Regions from separate parts of the Homo sapiens genome. Here region 2 is linked to region 1. Evidence: fine-mapped expression QTL. A gene starts in region 1. The other region holds a variant in brackets. All regions are shown on one strand. Distances are from middle to middle.

The links. PIP is the estimated chance that this variant, and not a neighbour inherited with it, causes the effect.
Region 2: its variant is fine-mapped to the expression of LGR6 in whole blood (TOPMed, PIP above 0.99).

Annotation. Positions count from the first base shown.
Region 1 is chr1:202,187,689-202,196,960 of GRCh38, reverse strand. It overlaps LGR6 (leucine rich repeat containing G protein-coupled receptor 6), which reads right to left and starts at 3,162. Exons shown (of 18, transcript NM_001017403.2): 1 at 2,760-3,162. The coding sequence starts at 2,971. It also overlaps the pseudogene PTPRVP. RefSeq lists enhancers at 4,029-4,078, 3,773-4,576 and a silencer at 7,903-7,952.
Region 2 is chr1:202,159,590-202,168,816 of GRCh38, reverse strand. It overlaps PTPN7 (protein tyrosine phosphatase non-receptor type 7), which reads left to right and starts at 8,215. Exons shown (of 10, transcript NM_002832.4): 1 at 8,215-8,272. It also overlaps the pseudogene PTPRVP. RefSeq lists enhancers at 2,423-3,002, 3,646-4,146, 4,726-5,394, 8,925-9,004. The variant T/G (reference allele first, on the strand shown) is at 5,227.

The DNA of each region.
Region 1 (9,272 bases):
CACTCTCCCTCCCGATCCCCAACCCCCAATTTTCACCAACTGGTTGGGCTCCAAGTCCCCAGAACCAGCCAAGTATTGATCAAGAGTTGCCCTGACAGTCACCTCCCCAGCACACAGCTCTCTTCCTCCAGCCACAAACCATTCCCTTGAATTCTACACTCACCCACTAGGCTCAATTTTCTTCTGGTGTGGAGAGGCCTGGTAGTTTACCTCCACCTCCATGGAGCACCCATAGGAGGCATGATAATACTAGCCACCATTTCAGAGTTACCCTCGGGTGTCAGGCACTCTGGGGACTTTCATTGAACATATTATCTCATTTAATCCACTCAGCAACCTGCTTCCTCATCTCCATGTACACATGAAGAACCTGAGGCTTAGAGGTGTTCAGTGAGTGATTCTCAGTAGGTGGCAGAGCTAGGAAGGAACCAAAGTTTGAGTGGCTCAGAGAGAGGCACTGCTGATTATATCATCAGATGCGAATCTGTGCTCTCCTCAGCAAGGGCTGGGATACATGGGGCAGGGCCAAGCTGGACATCTCCTAACATCGCTGAAAAGAGAAAGGAGCCCCAAGACTTCCCCACCCTGGCTCTTCTGCATGCCAGCTCTCAACCCCACCTTCAGGTGCCTTTCTGGTAGAGCTGTTCTCCAGAGAGGGCAAAGAAAGAAAATTCCTCCTCTGAGACACCCTCAGGACAACTGTAGGAATCCTTCATGCACCATCCAGATGGGACCCCTCCCCAGCCCAGGGCAGGGGACACGGTCCTCTGCCACCTCCTTCCAATATTCCAGACCCCACTGCTAAATTCCCCATATTGCCTCAGGACCCATCATACTCTTTATAGCTCCCACTCCCTCTCTTCTCTCCACAACTCTCAGAAGCATCCCCTGAGTCTTGAGAGAGAGGGGCTTTCTCAATCCCCAGGAAGACACAGACCAGCTCAGAAAACCCCACCTCCACTGAACCCAAATGCAGACTTCACAGCTCCGAGGGAATTGTGGCAAGCTAGTGGGAAAAACTTCTGCCAGCATGGATGGTAGGATGCTTGAATTCCAAAGGTGACAGTGTACCTCCTTCCCCAAGTCCTTCTAGAAAAAGGGTCATTAACCAGTCTAGGAAGACTTAATGCTGGGAAAGGAAGCTCTGGAAGGCCTTATCTCCCCTGCCCCTTCAACCCAGGCAAGGGACCTTCCTTCAGCTCACCCAGAGAAAGGCTCCACAGAAGTCACATCTAAACTCTTTAGCCACAGGACCCTGTCTTCAAATGAACCAATGTCACATACTCCCAGGATAGAAAACTGCTGAAAGAGGGGCTGGCCTGTGTGTAGGGTGGGGCCGGAGCCTGCCCTGCTTTGCCAGATGCTGAGCGCCCAGGCTCTGTGCAGTTGGTACCTTTATTCCCATGATTGCCTCTGCCGTCACCTACTGCACTGTGAAGGATTCCATTTGTCCTTCTAGATGGACATTATTTTTCTCTTCCCACTCCCTTACCTGGCCCACAGCCTGTGCCTTTTGGAGTGGAGGGGGACATCCCAACCTGGGGACAGGGACATTTGGAGAGGAGCCCCATGAAGAGTTGCCCTCTGGGACCCTCTACCTCCCACCAGGACACTCCCAACACTGAGCATCTTTAGTTCCACAAATTCTTGCTAGGCCCCTATAAAGATTCACCCAGCCTCCTCTTCCTCTAAGCTCCCATGTGCTGGAACCCCAAAGCCATAAGGAGCCTCTCTCAGGCCAGAAGGAACTCTGGGATCCTAGCCCTCAGCAGAAGGCCCCACCAGGCTTTCCCACCTGCTCCCAGCTCCTCTGAGGAAGTTGATAGAGCCTGCAGAGCTGGGCTGGAGGAGGTTTCCTTGCCCCAGAGCGGGGCTGGGGGTGCAGGTGGGTGGCCTGGAATGTGCTCTCTCACCCTCCTCCTGCCCAGGTGGTGAGCAGCCAGAGCCCCCAGCCCTCCAGCTCTGAGGGGAAGCTCCCATGAGCCAGACAGACAGGACAGCTGCCCCCAGTAGGGTCCCCTTCACGCGCCATCTCACCCCAACTCAGACGCTAAAAATGGTTCTCTGGTTTTCAGCCTCGGCGCCTGCCCACAAATTAGTGTCTCCAACACAGCCTCTTGGGACATGACTTTAGGGAGGCCCCTGGGGGAGCCAGGAGGCCCCAGTGAAGGGAGATGGTGCTGGCAGAGTCCCTTTCTGAGGAGACAAGAGTGGATAAGGCCCCCCTCCCAGCTTCTAGGAAACCCGCCCCCCCCGCCCCCACGAAGGCCACCCAGCCTCAGTGTGACAGCCCTGTTGTCCTCACCATGGCAGAAGAACAGACATTATTTCCACCCTACTGGGGCACGCTCCCCTCACCTCCACCTCCAGTTCTGTCAGCTTTACCCTCAGCCACCATCCCGGGCACTGCTCTGCTAGAAGAGAATGCAGCAACAGGAGATGGAGCAGCCAGCCCCGCGCCCTCCCGCTCAGGGTCCAGAACCCACCTCGCCAAGCCTGGGCTCCCATAGTCAGCCCACAAGCACGGAGGCCAATGGGGAAGCCAAGTCAGGGAAGCCCGGTCTCCCTGCTCGCCTGGTATTTAGTCTCAGACTCTTCTCCCCTCCCCAGTCCCGCAACGGTCAACTTGGAAGGGGGCAAACCCTCTCCGGGATGCCCATGCCCCAGGGCACCAAGCAAGCAGGTGCCCTGCTGAGGCCGGGACTGGGCGCTAGCCAGCAGCCCGCAGGACCAGGCGGGGACAGGCGGGCAGTACTCACAGGTAAGCCGTCAGGGGGTCCAGGTCCCCCGGAACGGCGGACAGCCCGAGCTCAGAGCAGTCGGCAGACAGCATGATGCCGTCCTCCTGGCAGTGGCAGGGGGCCGGGCAGGCGGTGGGCCCCGGGCCGGGCTGGGGGGCGCCGCCGGCCCTCCGGGAAGCGCACAGCGCGGCGCAAAGCCATAGCGCCCGGAGCCCCGGCGGGCTGGGCATCTCGGCGGTCGGGCTACTGGGGCACCTGGCGGCCGGGCGCGGACGCACGGCGCGATGGCCGCAGCTGCTTCCTCCCGGTCCCGGCGGGCTGCACCGTCGGTGGGGACCGCCCCAGGGGCTCTATTGGGCGGCGGCGGCGGCGGTGGGAGCGCCGGGACGGTGCAGTCAGAGAGGGGCAGGCATTGTTGAGTGATCTTCGTTATTCAGTTTCACAGGCTGGGCTTGGCAAGGGAGGGAGACCCAGCCGGAGGAGGAGTCAAGGAAACTTTCTACACTGCGGCTCGCTCCTCTTCCCTCCTTCCTTCGGAGCTGGCAGGAATTTCATCCAGGAAAGAAAAAAAAAAAAGGAAGAAAGCAAAGAAACCCAAGCGAGCAAAGCTCAGCCCGTCAGAGACCTGCATTTGTTTGGATAGGGTGTCCCAGGGCCTTGGCCGCAGGGCTGGGGACCCTCTTGCCTTTGGGGACAGCCACGAGGTCACATGGGACCCAGAGGAGGTCTCTGAAAGAGGCCTTGGGGCTCCCATTGCCCCTCATGCCTCCACCACGTTTCACACTGCAGGAAACTGAGACCCAAGAGGCAAAATGATTTGTTCAAGGTGACACAGCTGATGGGACATCCCCAGAGCTGGAACTCGTCCACCCTCCCTGGCCTGTCTGCTAGGACAGGAGAGAGGGGAGTGAGGGGCTACCCTGGAAGAGGCCAGGCTGCGGAGGGTTCCACTGCAGGCTGGGATGACCCGACGGTGGGCAACCAGGAGCAGTCTCCTCACTGAGAGGCCGGGCCTTGACTCCAAAGAAACGGGTGTGGAGTTACACCCGCTGAGTGCACCCTGGGTGGAAATGCACTCCTGCAGCCTCTGTCAGGTTTACGGCCTGGGGACCACCTTGATCCCTGCTCCCAGGACCTCGGGAGTCTGAGGGACTGTGGGCAGCTCAGCTGGTTGTCAGAGCCCACCTCAAAGTAAGCGGATTGGTGCCACCTGGAGGCCGGGTGCTGCACCTGCAGCTCAGCCACCCTGAGGCTGGAATCCCACCAAGTGGCTGACCTGGGCCGGCCCCAGAGCCCTGGAGAGCAAAGGGCATGGTGGTTAAAACTGAGGTCAATCCCTGTTCTCTCCTTAGACCATAGTGAGCTGGCTGTGCTTCCTTCATGCAGCCTCTTGCTCTCTCTGGTCTCTCCCATGCTGAGCCAAGCCCCCGCGCAGAGCTAGAGCAGGCTGTGGGCCCCCCTCCTTCCTTTTTTTGCCCTATCTCCCCATGGTCCAGCCAGAGGGTATACTAGAAACCTGGGACCTCAGAGGCATCCAGGATTTCTTCCACCCTGTCTTTCCACATGCCAGGATCCTCTCATCAACACCTCTCCACTCTCCCAATAACCTCCCAGGGCTAGAGGGGCTGCATAGCTGGACCAAGAAATGAGCAGACCTTGACCCTAGGCCTCCAGTTGGTGCCATGGCGCTGAAAGTAGAAGACGAGCCTCCGCTCTCGCTCTCCCTCTCCCTCTCCCCTCTTTCCACGGTCTCCCTCTGATGCCGAGCCGAAGCTGGACTGTACTGCTGCCATCTCGGCTCACTGCAACCTCCCTGCCTGATTCTCCTGCCTCAGCCTGCCGAGTGCCTGCAATTGCAGGCGCATGCCGCCACGCCTGACTGGTTTTCGTATTTTTTGGGTGGAGACGGGGTTTCGCTGTGTTGGCCAGGCTGGTCTCCAGCTCCTAACTGCGAGTGATCCGCCAGCCTCGGCCTCCCGAGGTGCCGGGATTGCAGACGGAGTCTCCTTCACTCAGTGCTCAATGGTGCCCAGGCTGGAGTGCAGTGGCGTGATCTCGGCTCGCTACAACATCCACCTCCCAGCAGCCTGCCTTGGCCTCCCAAAGTGCCGAGATTGCAGCCTCTGCCCGGCCGCCACCCCGTCTGGGAAGTGAGGAGCGTCTCTGCCTGGCCGCCCATCGTCTGGGATGTGAGGAGCCCCTCTGCCTGGCTGCCCAGTCTGGAAAGTGAGGAGCGTCTCTGCCCAGCCGCCATCCCATCTAGGAAGTGAGGAGCACCTCTTCCCGGCCGCCATCCCATCTAGGAAGTGAGGAGCGTCTCTGCCCGGCTGCCCATCGTCTGAGATGTGGGGAGCGCCTCTGCCCTGTCGCCCCGTCCGGGATGTGAAGAGCGTCTCTCCCCGGCCGCCCCGTCTGAGAAGTGAGGAGACCCTCTGCCTGGCAACCGCCCTGTCTGAGAAGTGAGGAGCCCCTCCGCCCAGCAGCCGCCCCGTCTGAGAAGTGAGGAGCCCCTCCGCCCGGCAGCCACCCCGTCTGGGAAGTGAGGAGCGTCTCCGCCCGGCAGCCACCCCGTCCGGGAGGGAGATGGGGGGGTCAGCTCCCCGCCTGGCCAGCCGCCCCGTCCGGAAGGGAGGTGGGGGAATCAGCCCCCCGCCCGGCCAGCCGCTCGGGAGGTGAGGGGCGCCTCTGCCCGGCCGCCCCTACTGGGAAGTGAGGAGCCCCTCTGCCCGGCCAGCCGCCCCATCCGGGAGGGAGGTGGGGGGGTCAGCCCCCCGCCTGGCCAGCCGCCCCGTCCGGGAGGTGAGGGGCGCCTCTGCCCGGCCGCCCCTACTGGAAAGTGAGGAGCCCCTCTGCCCGGCCAGCCGCCCCGTCCGGGAGGTGTGCCCAACAGCTCATTGAGAACGGGCCAGGATGACAATGGCGGCTATGTGGAATAGAAAGGCGGGAAAGGTGGGGAAAAGATTGAGAAATCGGATGGTTGCCGTGTCTGTGTAGAAAGAGGTAGACATGGGAGACTTTTCATTTTGTTCTGTACTAAGAAAAATTCTTCTGCCTTGGGATCCTGTTGATCTGTGACCTTACCCCCAACCCTGTGCTCTCTGAAACATGTGCTGTGTCCACTCAGGGTTAAATGGATTAAGGGCGGTGCAAGATGTGCTTTGTTAAACAGAGGCTTGAAGGCAGCATGCTCGTTAAGAGTCATCACCACTCCCTAATCTCAAGTACCCAGGGACACAAACACTGCGGAAGGCCGCAGGGTCCTCTGCCTAGGAAAACCAGAGACCTTTGTTCACTTGTTTATCTGCTGACCTTCCCTCCACTATTGTCCTGTGACCCTGCCAAATCCCCCTCTGCGAGAAACACCCAAGAATGATCAATTAAAAAAAAATAATAAATAAATAAATAAATAAAAGAAGACGAGCCTCCTAGGAAGGCCAGAGGATGGGCCTACATGACCAGAAAGACCCACAGATAGAGCCACCTCTGCCCTATGGAAGAAAGCTACCGCAGGCCAGCCTGCACTTCCTTCACTCAACCATAGCCTCGGCTCCATCTCATTTGCAGCTCCTGCTGCTCCAATGTGAGATCTTCCCAGAGTGGAAAAGCCATGGTTGAGCCCTGTTTCAACCTCAGCAGCAGCTGCTTGAGACAGACTTGGGCAGCTCAGAGCAGAGCCTCCAGCCTGCTTTTATGAGGGTCATTAGGGGGCCCACCCTCAGCTCCTGATAAACATGGCATATGGAGGACACTGACATTTAGTCCTCCTGGGAGGGCACCAGTGCTTTAGTCTCATTCTGGGAAAGCTCCCGGCTGAGCAGCCAGCACGACCTCTGTACCCTTCTTCAACCAGCCCTGAGAAGGACCCTCCACTGACTTCTGACCCGTTGCACCTTAGTAGGAACTCAGGTTGGCCAAAGAGCTCTCCCCTCTTCCCCTTGGGGAGACCCAACTCCACTTCAGGGACTCTTGCTCTGATCTGTCCAGGTTTTCTCTGTGTCCTCCCAGGGCCTTCCACCAGGGGCAGTTAAGGTCCAGCATCAGGCACTGCACCTGGAAACTCCCAGCCTGACCAGGGAGGGAGGCAGGAGCTCATGTGGCCACCAGCAATCACGCACATGGTATGCAGTGCAGTCCTAGAGTGTGTGGGACAGACAGCTGCCTCCCCGCCCTCTTTTCTGGTCTCTGCTGCTCCTCCTGGTTTTTCCTTTCTCCATATGCCCTCCCTGCTTTCTCCTCCACCTCCTCCTATGTGGAGGGGAGGAAGGAGGAGAGAGCAAAGGAGCAGGGAAAACTTGGCACCTCCGCCTGAGGGGTGCCTCCAGCGCCTGCCTTCTGAGTAACAGGGTAGCTCTGGCACCTCCATCCTGGTGGGGGCTGAGGGTGGCCCCTGGGGGCTCTGGCAGGTAGAGAAGGCTGGGGATGGCAGGAGAAGGGAAGTGGGAAACAGGATAAACCCTACTGCATACAGCGTGGTGCGTACAGGGTGGTGGGGCAGAGGACGAACAATTTGGAGCTGTGATTCTGAATCCAGGGCTTAGCACCACAGGAAACTAGACGTGGAGAGACCAAAGTCTGAGGATATTTAGAAACTGAAGGATTAGCAGGGAGAGGATTGCTTCAGGGGAAAAACCAACACCATAGGGGCCATAGGTCACCTAGTTCAACCAGACTCCAGGTCCTAGCTTCCATCCCGGCTCCACGTTTGCCCACAAGACCCACACACGGGGCCCAGGTCTGAGGACGGACAGACAGAACACACTGAGCTTCACGCTTGGCCACAGGTCTTTATTCCAAGACCCTTTACCTTTGCAGCACAGGGCCCAGTGGAGGCCGCCCTTCTGGGGAGCCCAGGCCCACGTGGATGTGTCAGGAATGCTGTCCCCATCCCACAGGGCACAAACCTCTCCTGCACAGTGACCAGTGCCGACTCAGGGGCAGCCCGTCTGCCAGTGCGCTGTTCAGACAATTGTAGAGGTAGATATACTGCTTCTGGAGATGGACATAGGGTTAGGAGGCTCGCCCCGCCTGCCCCAATCTAACAGAAAAGGGCTCCCTTGTGTGTCCCAACCCCTAGGGCTCCATCTGGGAGAATGCACAGAGGTCCACAGCGCCACCTGGTGGCTACCCGGGTGGTGCTGCCTAGAGGCCTGGGCAGAAGCTCCCTCACCTCCCACCCCTTCCCACAGCTGAGCCCCCACGCCCCCACCCCAGCCCCATCGCCTCTCACCAGCGTTGGGGTCATAAGGTCACAGGCCTGAGACTGCTGCAGGGCCACGTTAAAGACATCCACGGTGCACTCAGACCCTGCCTGCTGCAGCAGCTGCTCCATGGCCAGGAAGGTGCCCAGCTGGGTCGCACCCTTGCTGCAACTGACCTAGAGTTGGATGAGGTACCTAAAGGGGGTGTGGCAGGGGTGTCCGGGGATGTGGCGGGGGTGTCCGGGGATCTGCAAAAATCCAACCTGGGTGCAGGGACTGAGAAGGGACACCGAACACTTGGTCAGCCAGCCAGCCAGCCTGGGCCCAGGGAGGGAGGCGGTAAATTCCCACCATATTCCTGAGGACAGGGTAGGGTGTGGGGAAGACAGGGGCATTGTGAGACTGTGTCCTTTTGGCCCATAACCCAAGCAGGGCCCAGGGAGATCTGAGGCTATGCCAGAGGGGCAGGGAGGGGCTTCCAGTGTCCACTCCCCCAAGACCATTGTCCAGCAACACCTGGAGTGGCTGAGCAGTGTGCCCGGCTTCTTGCTGTTGCCCCGAGAGCAGCACTGGCCCACAGCAGCCAGGAAGGGCAGCAGGGTGGTGGCGGGCAGCTCATGCCCAGGCTCCAGGTATGGAAACTGCAGTCTCTGCACCTCCCTTTCCTTCCTACTCTCCCCCTCGGGCAAAGACATGATCGGCATTGGTGCTGGAGAGGGCAGAGGGAGCCCACACAGGACTCTTCTCCCACACACCACCCCATGCCCTGTGGCCCCAACACCTACATGTGTGACCCTGAAGAGGGCACAGAGCCAGCCCACTGTGCTGCTCTCGGCCACCCAGTGCACTGTCACCATGTCTGTGACTATGGGCTGCATCTCCATTGGCCAGAATTCCTGTGGCTGGGACCAAGTTAGGGCTGCTCAGGCAACTTCCTGAGATCTCTGCCCCTGCCCTGGTTAGACAGCACCACAAACTACCCGCCTCCAACCTCAGCCCTAACTCCTGAGCCTCCCTTCCTCTGTCCTCTGCACTCTCACCTTCTCCATGGCATCGAGTGGGCACAGAGAGACAAGCACATGAGCCCCGTGCTGCCACACCAGCTCCCAGAGCTCCTCTGGCCCTGCGAGGCCAGTCAGCACCATATGATCACAGCCAGAGGGCCCACCCTGCAGAGCACAGCTCATTGGCTTCCAGAGACTGAGGGTGTCCCCTGCCCAGCCCACAACTCTGGGAGCCCCCAGCAGCCCCAGCCCGGGAAGTACAGGTGGTCAGAGAGGGCAGGAAACAGTGGCAAAACCAGCATCATCTCACAGGGAAGAGCCAGGCTTCA
Region 2 (9,227 bases), 28 kb after region 1:
CACTAACAGCCTTTCTGCCTTAAAGAAGAATGGAAGGCCAAAAAAAAGAAAAAGCCAGGGTAGAGCCAGGGTCTGGTGTGGAAAAATTGGCCTCACACCCCCGACTCTTCACCCCCAGAACTCCCTCCCCCGCTGAAGACACCTACCTGCACTCTCCCTGCCTGGACTCCCTTCCAGGGAGAGGCATGCTTCCTCCTGCAGGAAGAAAGGAGGCAGAGAGTTGGGGAAATGGACAGAGGCCTCTGGGAAGGCTACTGGTGGAAGGTGGAAGGGGATTGTGACTCTCAGGCTGCAGACAAGCCCACCTCTTCCTGATGCTGTAGCAGGACGAGCCGCAGACAAAACTCCTCAGACACCAGATTAAAGAAGGAAGAGGCCGGGTGCGGTGGCTCACGCCTGTAATCCCAGCACTTTGGGTGGTGGGGCAGGGCCAGGATCCAAGAGAAGGCTCTGTTGCCGTGTCTGACAGCCCCACACATGGCCAAGGGGCATCTCCCGGAAGCATGCCCATGGCGCATCTGTTCTCCAGGCAGGCTGGAGCAATCTGTTCTCGCTCGCTGCGCCACGTGCTGGCCCTGGTGGAAAGGGAGTGGCCTCTCCTCGCCTAATGCAGACCAGCTGTGGGGTCCCGAGGAGCGCTGGGAGATCTGGATGTGCCCTGGAGAGCGGGGACCCCACCCGCTGGCCTGCTCCCCCATGCCCACCTTACCTCTGCCAGAAAACCCCGGAACCAGAGCAGGGCAGCGAACAGGATTGGGAGCCTCATCCTGATAGCTGCAGAGTAAAGTTGGGAGGCAGCAAGGGGAGGAGCCAGTCCCCTAGCCCACCTTGCCTTGCTTGCTGGCAGGCAAGGAAGGCGGGCATGGGTGGGAAGGGCAGAGTTTCAAGCACAAGCAGGCAGCAGGCAGCAGGCAGCAAAAGCAAGGGGCTGCCTCTTAGCCCCAGAGCCTGACCCCCGCTCTCTCCAGCCTTGGCAAGGCTCTTGAAGGGAGAGAGGCGGAGGCTGGCTCCAGGCCCAGAAGGTGGAAAGGGATTGTGACTCTCAGGCTGCAGACAAGCCCACCTCTTCCTGATGCTGTAGCAGGACGAGCCACAGACAAAACTCCTCAGACACCAGATTAAAGAAGGAAGAGGCCGGGCACAGTGGCTCACGCCTGTAATCCCAGCACTTTGGGAGCCCGAGGCGGGCGGGTCACGAGGTCAGGAGACCGAGACCATCCTGGCTATTATGGTGAAACCCCGTCTCTACTAAAAATACAAAAATTAGCCAGGCATGGTGGTAGGTGCCTGTAATCCCAGCTACTAGGGAGGCTGAGGCAGGAGAATGGCGTGAACCCGGGAGGCGGAGCTTGCAGTGAGCCGAGATCGTGCCACCGCACTCCAGCCTGGGTGATAGAGTGAGACTCTGTCTCAAAACAAAAAAAAAAGAAAGAAGAGGTTTATTCAGCCGGGAGCGTCAGCCGACTTGCGTCTTAAGAGCCGAGCTCCCTGAAAAAGAAATTCTTGGCCTTTTTAAAGGCTTACAACTCTAAGGGGTCCACGTGAAAGGGTCGTGATAAATTGAGCAAGCGTGGGGAACGTGACTGGGGGCTACATGTATCAGCTAACGGAACAGAAAGTTTTGCAGTGCTTTTTCATACAATGTCTGGAATTCACAGATAACACAAGTAGTTTAGGTCAGGGGTTGATATTATTATTATTACTTTTTTAACTCCTAGGGCCGGGTGGTGGTGCTAAGGTTGTCTGGCTACTTAACTTCTGTTTCTTTCCAACTTTTTGCTTTCTCTCTTTCCTCCTGTCTTGTGAACTAGGCAAGGTGAGGGGGAGGAGGGAGGGCAGCAGAAGTAGTAGTGGTCTCCTTCCTTAATGCCTCCCCTACCTGTAGCCCACTCCCAGCCCTCAGCTCTCCAGGGAGGAAAGTGTCCTGTGCTCTTGGGGAAGACCAAGAGGAGAGGTGGCTCTGCAAATGGACACATTTGCAGCTGGCTGTCCCACTCCTTGGCTCTGGAGGAGGGGCACAGTGTCTGTTGACTCCATCACCGAGTGCGAGATAGATAGTGTTTCTGTGGGGGTGCGTGTGGTCTTGGTGACACCATGTGGATGTGTGTTCCTGTGTCCTAGGTGGATGGCCAGCTGAGTGTGTGTCTCCTTTTGTATATCCATGTGGTACCACGCTCTTGTGGACAGAAGCACATACTTTGGCTGCTGAGTCACAGCAATTGTAGATCTAGAGCCCACCTGGCCCTTGGGCCTCCTCTGGTCCCACCTCATCACTGCCAGATGAGGAAGCTGATAACCAGAGAGGGGAAGAGCCCAAGTGTCTGAACAGAAAAGCTGGGCTTGAACCTGGGACCTCGGACTCCATAGAACAGAGATGGCAGACCCTGCTCCAAACCTCCCAAATTGGGGTCCTCTCAGCTGGGAATCCTCTGAGGAGCAATTCAAGTACCTGGGACTTTTGCTTGCCTTCCCCCACTTCTTTTCCCCGAATCAGCAGCGTCCATCCTGGTTCCCCTGCCCCTCCCAACCCCCACCTGGCTTTGGGCACTGCTGGAACCCAGGCAAGCCTGCCTGAGGCCTGGCCTCAAAGATAATGAACTTGGGGCTTTGCTTTACTCCTGACTAGAGCCCTTGAGTCACCCCGAGCTGCTCACCCAGGTGCTCCCACCTACAGACAGCTGAGGATGAGGAGTGAGAATGGAAGAAAAGGCTTTGGGCCCTGGGAGTGAAGCCCAGGACTCAGAACAAACTCAGGTAGTGGGGAGAGGGGATGTGTGGAAAACACACAGGTATAGAAGTCTGAACACCAACGCAGCCTCTGTGGTAGCTGGATTCTCCTGGGCCTGCCCCAGCAGGGAGGACAAGCCTGCCTCCAAGACCAGCTCAGCCCAGCTCCCTGCTCAGGCCACAGCCAGGGGCTGCTTGCTCCTCCCCCGCTCCACCTAGCCCCAAACCTCAGAGCCGCCCACCCGGCCCCTGGATGGGGGCCTGGAAACTCAGCACTGCAGACTCAGGAGATTTTCCAGGCCGTGTGTGCGCCTGCGCATATGTGCTCTTTTGAAAGGCGGGGGCGGCGGGCGGGGGAAGGTTGCAACCAGGGAAACTGATGTGAAAGGGAAGAGGTCCCAGTCTGGCCAAGAGGTGGCGGAAACATCGTACCTTCTCATCCCACCCTCATCCCACCTCACCTGGGGACATCTCACTCTGTTCTTTCTGGTAGCCTTGATCAGCAACCAAGAAGGGGAGAGGCGGGGTGGAGGCGCCCTAATTCGGAATCTAAGGAGAAGAGACACACAGGACACATGCCTAGGTAGAGGCAGAGTGTGTCAGAACCTGCTCAAGAGTCCCCACAAAAAAGCGGTCTGCGGGGCCCAGCACAGACTCCATAGCTAGTCCTTTGGACGGAGCCTTGAGGAGGCACCTGGCCCTAAGATGCACAGCTGCCAGCCCCCAGCGCAGCCTAGGGGACCGGGAGACAGGGCCCCTAGAGGTTCTGATAAATAAGCTGGGCATGGTGGCTCATGCCTGTAATCTCAGGACTTTGGGAGGCCAAGGTGGGCGGATCACCAGGTCAGGAGATCAAGACCATCCTGGCCAAAATGGTGAAACCTCGTCTCTACTAAAAATACAAAAAATTCGCTGGGTGTGGCGGCACATGCCTGTAATCCCAGCTACTCGGGAGGCTGAGGCAGGAGAATCACTAGAACCAGGGAGTTAGAGGTTGCAGTGAGCTGAGATGGCACCACTGCACTCCAGCCTGGTGACAGAGTGAGACTCCGTTTCAAAAAAAATAAAATAAATAAGCAGCAGCCTCCCCAGCCCAAACGTCTCCATTCAGCAAAAGAAAAGGTACCACGAGGGCTGTATCTCCTCCCCAGCAACCACCCCCACAGACAAACCCACATCCTCTCCCTAGAGAACCCCTGGGGTTCCCCCCCGCTACCCTGAGGTCTCAGGGCACCTTACTGATTCCTTCTGGAGAGAGCCAGCCAGGAGGCAGAGGAGAGAGCAAGGGGCAGGTCTGGGAGTGCTGGCTTCCAAATGTGAACTGGCCTGGCCTACAGCTGTCCCAGGCAGCGCTCTTCCGGCCCCTCCCTGCTCTCCCACAGCCTGAAGCCTGGCCTTGGGCAGCCCCCACACTGGAGGAAGATAATCACCGGGCAGCAGAGGGGCAGGGTGGCTCAGGACAGCCAAGTCGCCCACTCCCCCTGCTGCCTATACTATGGGGAAGGTGGCCAGGGAGTGGGGGAAGGCCTAGGTCCCCCTGACCAGGCCATGGGAGAGCAGGGGAGGGGCTGGTCATGTGTGGATTGACACTGTGCATGTGCATTTGTGCAAACGTGGGCCATGAGGGTGTACACACCTGTCTGGATGGATGTATGAGTGGGTGTCCGGGGACAACACAGAGCGGGAGGGAGACGGGAGCCCCTGGGAAGAAAAGGCCACATTGTAGAATAGATGTCCATTTGGCTGGCTCTGGGCTTGGGAGAGAGGGAGGGACTCTTCTATCCTAAAACCTTCCTGCCAGGGTCCTGAGTTCCAGCATCGGGCAAAGAACCAGGCACTTTCCTGGACCTCCTGGCAGGCTGGCCCTGGCATCCCAGTGCCAAGCAGGGCTGGATTACTGGTCCTCTCAGCCAGGGGTAAAGGGTATGGGATGTTCCCCTTCATCCAAAAGGTAGCAGGAGGTCCCTAGCTGGCCCGGCACAGGGTTGAAGCTTTGAGACAGGGGTGCAGTTGTCACTCTGGTCAGCCTGGACTTATCCCATGCCCTTAACAGCACTTCCCTGCCCCACTCACCCTGTCTCCCCTGCTGTCTCCCTGCTTCCTGTGGGATGAGGCTTCCCAGATCCAGTTCTTGGTGTTTCTGTCTCCCCGACACAAACAGGAACAAGCCAGGGCCTACAAAGTTGGGGCAGAACAAGCCAGCTCAGGCTGGCCTAGGGTTTTGGGGGTGGGAAGGATGGAGGAACAGCCACCCGAGATCCTAGTGCTTCTCCAGAGAGGAGCCGAGGAGGGCAGCTAGGAAGGGGGCAGAGCAGCTGGAGTGTGCAGGACCCAGCAGTCCTGGCCCCAGGCAGCTGACTCTCTCCCCAGGATCCTCCCCTTGGATTGTTAAAAGGTGGCAGCCTTTGCCTCTGGGGGCCAACTGCTCCCCAGCAAGGAGCTCCCTACTCCCTAGGGGCTGGCAAAGAGCAACGACTTCTGGGAATTCCAGATGTAATG[T/G]CCGCCTTTCCCCGGGCCTGGGCTAGGGAGGGGGGCGCTTCTGACACTTGGGGCAGGGAGCTGCGGCTCACAGCCCTGGAACTGGGAATCACTAGAGGGGAAAACAAGAGAGTCAAGACGTGTGTGGCCAGAGCTTGGGAGGGCTGAGGGCACCCACCACAGCCTCAGATGGGACAAGGCTGACTCTCAAGATGCATCATGCCCTGCACCAGTCCCTCCCCAGCCTGGCCTGGTGGCTTGGGACACCCCTCTTTGTCCTCCCTGGAGTGGACTCTGTCCCACCCGGGATGCTGGGAGACCCCTGGGAGTGACTCCTTCCTGCACTTCCTCAGTGCTCGGCTGGAAGTGCCCCGGCAGCCCGGGTTCAGGGAGAAAGTCAGCAGTGAGGAGGAAGAGGGAGGCTGGTGAGAGGTGAGACCCGGCAGCCATGACCTCCTCACCCTGTGCTGCTCCCAGACCCACTTCCCCAGCCAGCTCCTCCCAGCTCCTCGGTCCTCTGGCTGCTGACTCCCAACCTCTCCTCCGTGAGCAAAGCACACCATGGGCTGACAAGGGAGGTGCTATGATCATCCCCCAGTGGAGGGAGGAAGCTGAGGAGGAGCCTGAGACTCAGCAATTTGCCCAAGGTCACACAGTTAATAAGCTACGTTTAGACTCATTATGCATAGATCTTTCTGATTTCCAACTATTACTATACTTTCTCTGGAGTCGAGGGTGGCTAGAACCTAAATCTCAACCCAGGAACACAAATCGATTCGAGTGATGGAAGTTTGAGAGCTGCTGTGACCTTTTGGCCCCAGGGGTGGGAAGGTTCTGGAGGGGAGAGGGAGTCACGCCCAGGAGCCTTCCAACAGCCCGGATGGGACAGAGTCCACTCCAGAGAGGGCAGAGAGGGGCGTCCCAAGTCACCAGGCCAGGCTGGGGAGGGGGAGGTGCAGGGCGATGACGCATGTCTTGTGCCATCTGAGGTTGCAGTTGGCATCCTCAGCCCTCATGAGCTCTGGCCACACACCTCCATGGATGTCCAGGTATCCCTAAGCACAGGGGAAGAAGGAGTGGGCAGGAGCCAAGGAGTGACTGTCCCCTCTACCCCACATCCACCCAGAGGGAACAGGGGATCTTTGAGAGGTCTTGCCTAATGCTCAGCCACTACCCCCACCCCCAACCCCAACTATCTTCCCCATCGCCTGGCTCCCAGCTTCCTTGCTGTGAAGCTCAGCTTCCAACTGTCCAGCCACTGCTAGGCCTCAGTCTGTGGGGGAAAGGGGTGGGCTCACAGCCAACAGGGCTCAGACCCTGGAAACTTGGGGGGACCAGGCAGACCTGTGTGGGGAGGGCTTTGCCGCTTCCTCCTCCCACCCCTGTGGTGTCCTAGCTTCCTGTTCTTGATAACAATCAGCATAGGCTCAGAGCCGGGCCCTCTTTCCAACCCCCACCTGCCCCCTCCTGTGTCCCCAGGGCCCCCACTACCCACCAGTGGAAACACTGACTGGTGTGGGGGGTGAGGCAGAGGCCAGTCTCCAGGTCACTGCTCGCAAGCATGTTAGGGATTCCCAGGTTCCTGCTTCCCTCCAGTCTGTCCTGAGCACGGGAACCAACCCCTTTCCCAGCCCTAATCGGCCTCCTCCTCAGGGAAACCCACCCACTCCGGAGAGGAACGCAGGCTGCAGGGAAGGAGGTGCCAGGATCAGCTGGCCATGGAGGGGCTCAAAAAAGAGCCAGCCCCTGTCCCCACTGCCAAGAGCAAGGGCGGGTGCTGGGAGGCCTTCTGAGCCTCTGGGGGCTGTTCTTGTTCTTCGTCTCAACCCTCCTCCTCAAGGGGCCAGCAGAAGGCCAGCCCCCTCCCGACCACCCCCTCCGGCATGCCTACCCCCTGTGCCTAGGGTACCTCATTTCTTTTTTGCTGTCACCATTTGACAGCTGAATCAGGGAAGTGGGAGGAAGAAAGAGGACGTGGATTGTGCATGTTGGGGGCCGGGAAGGGAAGGGCGTTTGAAATGTTACAAGGTAAAAGGAGGCGTGCAGCGAGCATGAACCGGCTGGGCTGCTGGCCCGCAAGGAGCCTGCCAAGGTCAGGCAGGGGCAGTGGGCAGAGGAGTCTTGGACTTGGGGGCCACCCTTCAGGTCCCAGGCATCCAGGCACCCCAGCAGCGAAGAGGACATGGGAGTCCCCTGGTGTGAGGGCCAGAGACTGTCCACTGTCTGTAAGTCTTCTAAGTAGATGTCAGGGTTCTGGGAGGAGGCCTGCAGGGGGCTGAGGGCCCAGGGGAAGCCCCTCGGACTCCCTCCCACAAGTGGACTCTGCTATCTGCTTCCTGCTGGGCTGGCCTACACTCAGGCCGTGGGCTGTGGAGAGCTGGGCCGTGGCACAGGCGTGGAGACGACCTTTTTGGCCTGGCCCCGGCCCTTTCCTTCACATTGTGAGGCATGGATTCTTGCTTCTTCTTTTTCCCCACCCCGAGTCTGTGCCACATCTGCTCTGGGAAGATGTGGTCTGTGCTTGGCCATGAATTCCCAAGGCTTGAAGCAGCAAGGGCTTTGAGGGAGAGGGCCTTGAGGGAGAGGGCCTTGAGGGAGAGGGCTGTGGGGCAGAAGCAGAGAAGGAGAAATAAGCCTCCGGCCAAGGTCAGGTTGAGCAGGAGAGCCTTGGGTTCTTTGTGGGACAGCACAGAGCTGGGGGTCAGGCGAGCTGTGCCCAGCAAGTAGGCAGCGGCTGGATGTGACAAAGACCCAGAGGAGAAACACAGAAGAGGGGAGAGGGTCTGGAAGCTGGGGAAAGCAGGATGGTCGGGAAGGCCTGGCCCCTCACCCATTCCCAGGGAACGGGGCCTTGGGCCCCAGAAGGGCACAGGCGGGAGGCAGCCGACCCCTGGTGGCAGCGGCAGCAGGCACAGGAGGGCAGAATGCAGCTGGGGTGTGCGTGGGTGGCAGCAAGGAGGGGCGGAGGGAGGAAGCTGGCTTCCTGGAGCCTTCTCAGCCCTCAAAGACAGACCGACAGACAGACAGACAGCTGGCAAGAGGCAGCCTGGGGGCCACAGCTGCTTCAGTAAGTATCTGAAGGGGGGACTGGGAGTCCTGTGGCCCCGGGGGGTGCGAACTCCGGGGATATAAGAGGGCATCTCTAGGAGGGAGTGCGGGAGGGCGAGTGGGGCGCCACAGTGCCTGGCTGGGGTATGGGTGCTCACAGACCTGATGTCCCCAAGACGGGGGTGAGCAGGGAAGCCACAGGGAGCTACAAGGAGAGCAGAGGCTGAAGGGACCTTTTCTGCTACCAGAGACCCTCGCTCTACCACTCACACCTGTGCCAGGCCCATTCTGTCCCCTCACCTCCGTCCCTGCTGCCTTGGTGATTCAACACCCCCGCCACCTCGCCCACTGTGACCCTGGCTCTGGGAGATAGGGACTGCCCCCAAGAGGAGATGGTCCCACCACCTCCATGCCTCCTGTCTTGCCCCCAGCTGTCGCCTCACCATGCGCTGTCGTTCAAGGGCTTGGTGAGGCCATTTCCTGTGACGGTTACAGAGGCGGGAGACGGGGGGATGGGCAGGAGGAGGAAGGAAACACCTCCAGCCTACCTCCCTGGACAGAGACCCCAGAAGCCAGAAACAGACCTGGGAGTGGAACAGCAGCAGTTAGGAGAGGACCCTGCTGGGGTCCAGGAGCCCGCCTGCCTGGCTGCCCAACCAGCTCCAACACTGCTGGAGGCCTCCATTCTCTGTTCAGGGGAAGGCCCACTGGTTAGCTCAGAGATGGCTTCTGCGTGCTTTCTCCCTTCCGTCCTAGAGAACACATATTTTCTGTTTCCTCCCTTGCCTTCTCCCACTTGGACCTGCTCAGAGCCCTGTGTACTCTGGTGTGTGGCCTCTCTCCCCTCTCTCTTTTCCTCCTTCTGGATTCTTTCCTATCTTCATCCACAATCTCTACCCTTTATCTTGCCGTTACTCTACCCCGAGACTGCCTTCTGCCCTGGGTCCCACCAAATAGATCCTGTCCTTCCCTTA